3 separate regions of the Homo sapiens genome follow, and all the other regions are linked to region 1. Evidence: fine-mapped QTL for protein levels in blood plasma. A gene starts in region 1. Each other region holds a variant in brackets. All regions are shown on one strand. Distances are between the middles of the regions.

Region 1 (2,762 bases):
ATGCCAGCACTGAGCCAGCCCTTGGGGCCTGGGGACACTCACAGTTGATCTTGAACTTCTTTGGATTCTCAGTCTTCTCTCCAAGGACCTTCTTCTCAACACAGCTGTTGTTCTCCCTGAAAGGTGGTGACAATAGGATGAGTGGCCACTTGAATTGGAGTTGCCTTCACTGTCACTCCTAAAATCAGGTCACCACGGGAACTTCCCCGGGTCCAAGGAGCACCGCAGCCCGCAGCCGCCCAGACCTTCTCCTCAGTCTGACCTGGGGCTGCACTGTGTGGTTGGCTGTTGGCCCAGAGCCTGGGGCAGGGGATCCAAGGGGACAGGGAACGTCTGGAGCCCTGGTTTTCCACCCCACCCTCATGGAAGGGCCACAGTGAAGCCCCTGGCTGTCAGAAAATGCCTGGGGCTAAGTCCAGCTCCGCCCAACCCACCCAGTCCTGGACCCCTGAGGGGGGAGACTGAGCCCCCGCCCAGCCCGTCTCAATGATGAGAAACCCACCATCTGTGCAGAACGATCTCCAGGTTGTCCTCGGGGGTGGGCAACAGTGAGGTGATGTGGACCCTCAGAGGGGCCTTCAGTGTCGCCATGAGGGAGATGTTGTTGGTCGCCATGGCCATGGAGTGCCAGGTCCCTGCCAACTGAGGGGGCCTTGGGCTGCACGGCGGTCCCACCCCACCATGGCTCTCGTTGCACCCGGTGCAGACGGGGCTGAGTCTAACTGGGATGGGTACAGTGAGCATTGGATGGTTGTCTGCTATCTACCAGATCCTGGGCTATGAAATTTCCTGTACTTAAAATGACCAGTGTGTGCTAACTCAGGAGTGTTCCAAAGTCCAAATAATGAGTCACCTAGGATGCTGGGAAACCAGAGAGGCCACCCTAAAGATGGAGAGCAGGGCTGAGGGCTTCCTGACGTCATGGCGTCCATTCTGTGCTTCCTGTAGGTTTCTGAGATCCTGGGCTTCCTGCCTGCCCGCAGCTCCCACCCGCCCCAGGCCTCCCACAGTAAAGTGCCCGCTCCCCCAGCCTCAAACCTTTGGGAGCTCCAGGTCCTGCTTGGTCTGGGGGATGTCCATGGCCGGGACACCACAGACCAGGGCCACGCCCAGGGTGAGCAGGAGGCACAGCATGGCTGCGGCTGTGGGTGGCTCTGAGCTCTGGAGCCAGAGGGATGCTGAGGCAGTGTGGGCTCAGGGGGCCTTATGTAGGAGGAGGGCAGACAAGATCCCCGCCCACAGCCTCGCCATGTGATTCCTCGAACCTGTGACTCATCCTTGGCCCCTGGGCAGCTTCCTCCACTGGGGCAATGGGAGGCTCTTCCCTGCGTCCACGCGGGAACCTCCTCTGTGTCCGGGCTGGGCAGTTCTTGGCAGGGCCTCAGGCGGGAGGGGCCTGGGTCGGGTCCAGGCTGGCAGCGGCGGGAGCACCTTCTGGGTTGGGGCTCCTGGACAATGTTGGGTCAGAGGCCAGCACTGAGGACAGCTGTGTCCAGGGCAGGGGTATGGCCTGTGGGGCAGGCAGAGGGCCTGAGAGCCCCATGGCTGCCCCAGGATGCCACAGACATCATGCCAGTGGGTGACTGACTGCACGGTCATAATCCTGACCTGTACCTTCCACTCAGACATCCCCAGGTGTGCACACCTGTGTCCCTCAAACAGCCAGCCTCTGGACAGGTGCACACTGCCTGTTAGCACTGTTTCTCTCTGACTCACAGGCAAGACTGGGTGGAAATGGGAGGCAGTGGACTTTCAGACTTTGTCCTACAGTCTATATTGGATGTACTTTTTCCCACAGGGAAGCATCACTTTGTAACTTACAATCGAGCCCGCATCTCACTCCCTGGAGAGCACTTGAGTCCTGAGGCAAGACACGGGTGTCCACTCCCACTCCCCCATCCATCAGAGCAGGTCATTCCGGCCAGAGCAGCTAGGCAAGAAATGGTAACTAAAGGCAGGCAGATTGGGAAGGGGGAGGTATACCTGTCTCTATTCGCATATAACATCATTGCCCAGGTACAAAATTGCAAGAACTCTACAAAACCCCTCCTAGAACCGAGTGAGGTCAGCAAGGTCAATCGCACAAAAATCCACCGTGTTCCCACACAGTGTCAAGGAGTAGACAGAACCCGAAACTGGAAATTCAGGATTTGTAATCACACACACAGCATGTAGGCAAAAATCTCACCAAATATGGACAGGACTTAAACTCTGAACCCAAGGAAGGGAAATCAAAGACCTAAGGTAAAGGACAGGCACAATGTGTTCATGGGCTGGAAGCTTCAACACAGCAAAGGTGTTAGCTCTCCTCAACTCAACCTAGAGATTTAATGCAATTCCTATCAAATTCTCAGCAAGATATTTTGTAGGTAGCTATAGACATGTGTGTGACACACACACACACATATATACATATATACATTTTTTTGAGGCCAAGTCTTGCTCTGTTGCCCAGGGTGGAGTGCAGTGGTACGATCTTGACTCACTGCAACCTCTGCATCCCAGGTTCAAGTAATCCTGCTGCTTCAGCCTCCAGAGTAGCTGGGATTATAGGCGCCCACCACCACACCTGGCTAATGTTTGTATTTTTAGTAGAGAGGGGTTTTCACTATTTTGGCCAAGCTGGTCTCGAACTGCTGACCTCAAGTGATCTGCTCACCTCGGCCTCCCAAAGTGCTGGAATTATAGGTGTGAGCCACCACACCCCACCATATGTAGATATATAGAGAAATTTTTTTTTCTAAAATTTACATGTCAAGGCA
Region 2 (2,762 bases), 19 kb before region 1:
CAGGATGATTTACGCGCATTCCTTGGATTGTGCACTTTATTTCTACTATGATTCCATTGTCATATATAATGGAAGAATTCTACAACTCACCATAGTGTAGAATCGGTGGGAGCCCTGAGCTCATTTTCCTGCAACTGGACTGTCCCATCTAGGGGGTATGGGAGACAGCGACAGATCATCAGGCATTAGATTCTCATCAGGAGCTTGCAACCCAGATCCCTCACATGCGCAGGTCACAGTAGGGTCCCCGCTCCGGTGAGAATCACCCACCAGAGCATTTGTGTTTCTGCTTCTTGTTCCTTCTCTATGTCTCCAACTTTCCCCCATGGCCTCGCAACAGCCACGGGCCCACAGTGCCACACACGGTAAGATATCTGATAGGTGGCTCAAACATCCTGGACTTGTTCCTCTTTCTTCTTGTACTTTTTAGGCATCCATCCCTAACTCTAACCCACACCAGGGGCAGCCTCTGTGTCTTCGAGGGACACCTGGATCCCTGTTCAGGCAAAGGGGCCTGGCTGCCTCTCCACACTCCTACTCCTCACTCAGCACGCGGCTCCAAGCGCGCCTCCTCCAAGGAGTCTTCCCTGGATCGGGCAGGGCCAGGTCCCTTTGGGGTGCACCTGCATCAGCACTCAGGCTCCTGGAGGCATCCATCTGCCCCTGTCCTGAGGCATGGTGGAAATGGCAGGGCAGCTTTTGCCAGCTTTCCAGTCTCCAGCCCACTGCTGGCCACAGGGGAGGCTCCAAGGTGTTTGTGGATGAAAGCGAATGAGTTGCCAGCAAAGTTGCAAAATCCAATGCAGCGTTCATGTTTCTCCCTGGACTCCCCGGACTCTGAAGAAGGCCCTGGGTGTGTCATCTCTGCCTCTAGCCCCAGTGCATCAGAGCAGTGCCCCATGGTTGACAGTGCTGAGCTGCGTGGACCTCCTTAGGGCCAAAGGCTGGGGTGCAAGGGCTGGCAAGCTCAGCTGGATGCTTGGGGACACTTGGTCTCTGGGCATCTCCAAGAAACATACATTTAATACCTGGGTGCAGACAAGGCTGTTGAGAATCTTGTGCCCCTAGGATTTGGGCTGGGGCCTTGATGTAAAGCGAGGGAGGGAAAAAGTCACCTGACACCCAGTGTGAGCCCTCTGGCTGTGACACTCACTCTTCCCAGAAAACGCTGTTCCTCCGTTTCCCCGCTTCACAGGTGTCCACCGCCCCTCCCTTGTCTGCAGGGAGCGCAGTCTCAAGGTAAAGTGAGCACACCTGTGTCTGATCGTGGTCACATTGGCTGCTTTCTGTGTGACCTTGAACACAGAACACCACCTTCCTGAACCTCTGTATTCTCACTTTCAGGACAAAAATATCGCTCTCATAAGAGGGTTTATGAAGGCGAGGGTTGCAGGAAAATGCTTCCTCTATGTTTTAGTTAAGTCTCTGGGGTTCTTTGGGCCTGTTATTTTCTGGTTTGGTTCTCACACAGTGAAATTCTACACATGGTCTTGAAGCTTCCAGCTGTCTCATTAGCAATGCTAGCTGGGGACCTTTCACAGGTGCAAGAGGGAACTTCGTTCTGAGAGGCTATTTGCAGGAAACTATTAGCTAAATGCTAAAACCATTCACAAGAATAAAACACTAACAGTGGGTCCAGATGGAGAAGCTCATGTGGATAGTTGCACCTGTAACCAGACACAGCTGGG[C/T]TTCAGTGGTTTGCTTCGGGGCACAGTGACCTACAGGAAGGTAGGGACTGCTGTATGTGTGCATTTTGCTGCTGTATCCACAGAGTCTAGAATGGTGCACTACCTGATCACCATGCCATGAATATTTGTTGGTAAATAAATGGATGGACAATGGATAATGAAAGGGTGGATGGTGGATGAATAGATAGTGAATGGGGGATAATGGAAGGGTGGATGGTGGATGGATAGTGAATGGGGGATAATGGAAGGGTGGATGGGTGAGAGATTGGGGATGAGGGTAGATGGATAGTGGGTGGATGATTGTGGGTGGATAGATGAATAGAAGGATGGATAAATAGTGGATGATGGACGGATTTATGGATGAATGAATGAGCGGTGGATGGATTATGGATAGATGAATGGGGAAGCAGAGAGGTGGATGAATGGCTGGATGAATAGGTAAATAATGGATGGAAGAATGGATGGATGGAAGATGGGGGATGTAAGTCAATGAATGATAGATGGATGAAGGTGTGGATAGATGGATGGATGGGTGGAAGATAGACAGTGGGTGGTGAATTGGGTGTGAATGGATGACAAGTGGACTCATGATGGTAAGAGGGGTATGTATGGCTGGATAGATGAATGGACTGATTATGGTTGGATTATGGTGAATAAATGGATGGTGTATGGTTGAATGGAAGGATGAATGATGGATGCATATGTGGGTTGATAGATAAATTAATGGATGAATGGGTGGATAGATGGTGGATGGGTGGATGTATGCATGGATGGTAGATGAATGAATACTGGTTGGGGAATGGGTGAAAGATGGATGATGGAGTGGATGAATAAATCGTGGGTGAATGGGGGTGTGAATAGATGAAGAGGTGGCCAAATGGCTAGATGGATGGGTGGAAGATAAATGGTGGATGGATGGTGGATGAATTGATGGTGGTGAAGGGGGAATGAATGGTAGATGAATGAATGGAGGATAGATGATAAATGCATGTATATATCCATAAATGGATGAATGAATAAATAATGGAATAAATGGATGAATGGATGGATTGGTGGGTGGTGGGTGAATGAATG
Region 3 (2,762 bases), 25 kb after region 1:
GAAATAAAATACTGACACATGCTACCACGTGGGCAAACCTTGAAACATTATGCTAAGGGAAAGAAACCAGTCACAAGAAACACATATGTATGATTCCATTTCTATGAAGTGTGCAGAACAGGCAAGTTCATGCAGACGGGAAGTAGATGAGAGGTTCTGGGGTGCAGAGGGAAGAATGGGGGTGAGAGCGGACGGGCGTGGGGACCTTTGTAAGATGATGAAGATCTCCTGGATTAGATAGTGGTGATGGTTTCACAGCCTTGTGAATTTACTGAAACCCACTGAATTGGGCACTTTTAAAGAGTGAGTATGATGGCATGTGAAATATATATCAAATAAAAATTTTAAAAACCACCTCCCCAGAGAAGCCTCTCCAGGCTACACAATGGAAGATGCAGCCCCTACTCTCCCTGTCACTTCCCTGAGCTGCGCTCCATTACGACACATCACTCCCCGGAGACACCCTGTTCATTTCCTTGCAGTCCTATTGATTGCCAATTCCCCCCATGGGCAGACTGAATAATGGTTCCCTGAAGATGTCCACATCCTCAGCCCTGGCCCTGTGGATGTGTGTATGTGGTAGACTGAATAATGGTCCCCTGAAGATGTCCACATCCTCATCCCTGGCCCTGTGGATGTGTGTATGTGGTAGACAGAATAATGGTCCCCTAAAGATGTCCACATCCTCATCCCTGGCCCTATGGATGTGTGTATGGTAAAAGGGACTTTGCAGATATAATTCAGGAAGGATCTGAGATGAGCAATTAGCCTGGATTATCTGGGTGGGCCCACTGTTATCACAGGGGCCCTTATAGGAGAGAGGCTGGGGAGCGAGGGAGGGAGAGAGAGAAGGGTGGGGAGAGAGAATATTTATGAACAGAAGTAGAAGAGGCTGTGCTGCTGGCTTTGAAGGTGGAGGAGGGGCCACAAGCCAAGGCATGTGGAGGCCTCTGGAAGCTGGAAATGGCAGGGACAGATTCCTCCCCAAGAGCCTCCAGAAGGAACCAGCCCTGCCAACCTTCGTTTTAGCCCCGTGAAACATACTGAAAAGAAGAGCTGGAATGAAGCATCTGAAGTTCTCTCAGCAAAACCTGCATGCTCGGTTGTGGTTGTGGGTTTTTTGACCAACAAATGAAAGCGTTCTAAGACCCCATGCACCGTCGGCTGAAGGGGAGCGTGAATATCTGTTCCCAGTCCCAGCCTCACAACCAGAGGATGCATTTCTTCACGGTTTTCTCCTGCAGCTCAAGGAGGGAAAGCACTTGGAATTATTTGACTTCTCCCCCTCACTCAGTGGAACTTTGGAGTCGTTCTTCCCACCCTTGTCAACCACAGGGCTTTCTCATGTCTACAGGCGCGTGTGCAGATTTCTTGGGTGTGCACAGATGCAGGGAGGGCATCTCGTCGATGGAAAATGGGATACTCATGGGCACGGCATGAAGTGACACCACAATTCCCTAAATTGTTTGCTGTGGTTGCTCATTGGGACGTGGCACCCACTGGAACCAAGGCTTTGGGAAGCCAACTGGCTGCTGTGCTTGGCCACAAACGTGGTAATCATGACTGCAAGGAGAAGGG[G/A]GCGGGGGCTGCCTGACTGATCTGGGGCTTTCAGAAAGGAAATGCCAAGGTCTGAGCTTGAGTAACAGGCAAGACACTGGAGACATTCCATCCTGACCATAGAATAATATTTCATTCTTGCAGCCACAGAGCAGAAATGGCTGAAAATCAGACTCCACATTTAATAGTGTGGGTTGCATGGTGAGTTGGATTCAAAAGTCGCCAAGTGTTTTATGTGAAAGTTGGGTCACTGCTTAAGGAGTGGGACCATGACACACAGAACTGGGACATTTATGTGATCTCAGATGGAAGTGAGAATCTTGATCCCCTCCCCAATCCCCCTGAACCTGCCGGGGCAGAATCACCCCCTCCTCCCCTCCCCAATCCCCCTGAACCTGCCTGGGCAGAATCATCCCCTCCTCCTTTGCGTGAGGAGATGAGACTTCCCTTTCTCAGACATCTTACCCCGAGGCAGTTGTGTCGGGATGGATTCTAGGGGCTTTACACCAGGAGAACCGCGCTCCGATGTGGACCCAAGCTGAGTGTGTCAGTGCGTATGTGCTGAGTGTGTCAGTGCGTATGTACTGAGCACGGCAGAGCTCTCAGCATGGATCGGCTCCACCCAAGCCCCTGCACCAGGAGACAGGAGATCGCCAAGCTCTCATGGCATCCAACAGCAGGAGGCGCATCCCTGGGGTGGCCCCAGCCCCCTAAATGCTTGCCTGAGAGCTCGGCACTGCAGGTGAATTTGCTGTGTGTCCTGGCCAGCACCCAGCTGCCCCTTCTTAGAGCTTTTGCTAAAAAGGGCTTACACCTGTGACTCCTTCCTCTGCCCCTTTGAGAAGTCTATTTCTCCTACAACGCAGAACTCTTTCTCAGGCTGGGTATGGTGGCTCACATCCGTAATCCCAGCACTTTGGGAGGCCAAGGTGGGTGGATCCCTTGAGGTCGGGAGTTTGAGACCAGCCTGGCCAACATGGTGAAACCCCCCCCCCCATCTCTATTAAAAATACAAAAATTAGCCAGGTGTGGTGGCAGGTGCCTGTAATCTCAGCTACTTGCGAGGCTGGGGCAGGAGAATTGCTTGAACCTGGGAGGTGGATGAGGTTGCAGTGAGCCGAGATCGCACCACTGCACTCCAGCCTGGGTGACAGAGCAAGACTCTGTCTAAAAAAAAAAAAAGAGAGAAAAAAGAAAAGAAATCT

Which allele goes with the higher level. Positions count from the first base shown, and alleles are read on the strand shown. Strength reflects both the effect of a copy and how common the allele is. Not every link is listed here.
With allele A in place of G in region 3, the plasma level of the protein whose gene starts at base 1,180 in region 1 is higher (moderate association).

The links. PIP is the posterior inclusion probability: the model's chance that the variant is causal. The UK Biobank Pharma Proteomics Project read protein levels with antibody pairs (Olink). The fine-mapping took linkage between variants from a reference panel, not from the people measured, so its PIPs are less certain.
Region 2: its variant is fine-mapped to the plasma level of the PAEP protein (UK Biobank, PIP above 0.99).
Region 3: its variant is fine-mapped to the plasma level of the PAEP protein (UK Biobank, PIP above 0.99).

What each region holds. Positions count from the first base shown.
Region 1 is chr9:135,560,174-135,562,935 of GRCh38, reverse strand. PAEP (progestagen associated endometrial protein) reads right to left here and starts at 1,180. Exons shown (of 7, transcript NM_002571.4): 1 at 1,039-1,180; 2 at 503-642; 3 at 43-116. The coding sequence starts at 1,134.
Region 2 is chr9:135,579,009-135,581,770 of GRCh38, reverse strand. The region is part of intron 2 of LINC01502 (long intergenic non-protein coding RNA 1502); the gene reads right to left. The region is part of intron 1 of LOC105376316 (a long non-coding RNA gene); the gene reads left to right. Among named protein-coding and RNA genes, the nearest start is that of LINC01502, 5.5 kb to the right of the region's middle. The variant C/T (reference allele first, on the strand shown) is at 1,689.
Region 3 is chr9:135,535,199-135,537,960 of GRCh38, reverse strand. No RefSeq gene overlaps it. Among named protein-coding and RNA genes, the nearest start is that of OBP2A, 9.5 kb to the left of the region's middle. The variant G/A (reference allele first, on the strand shown) is at 1,579.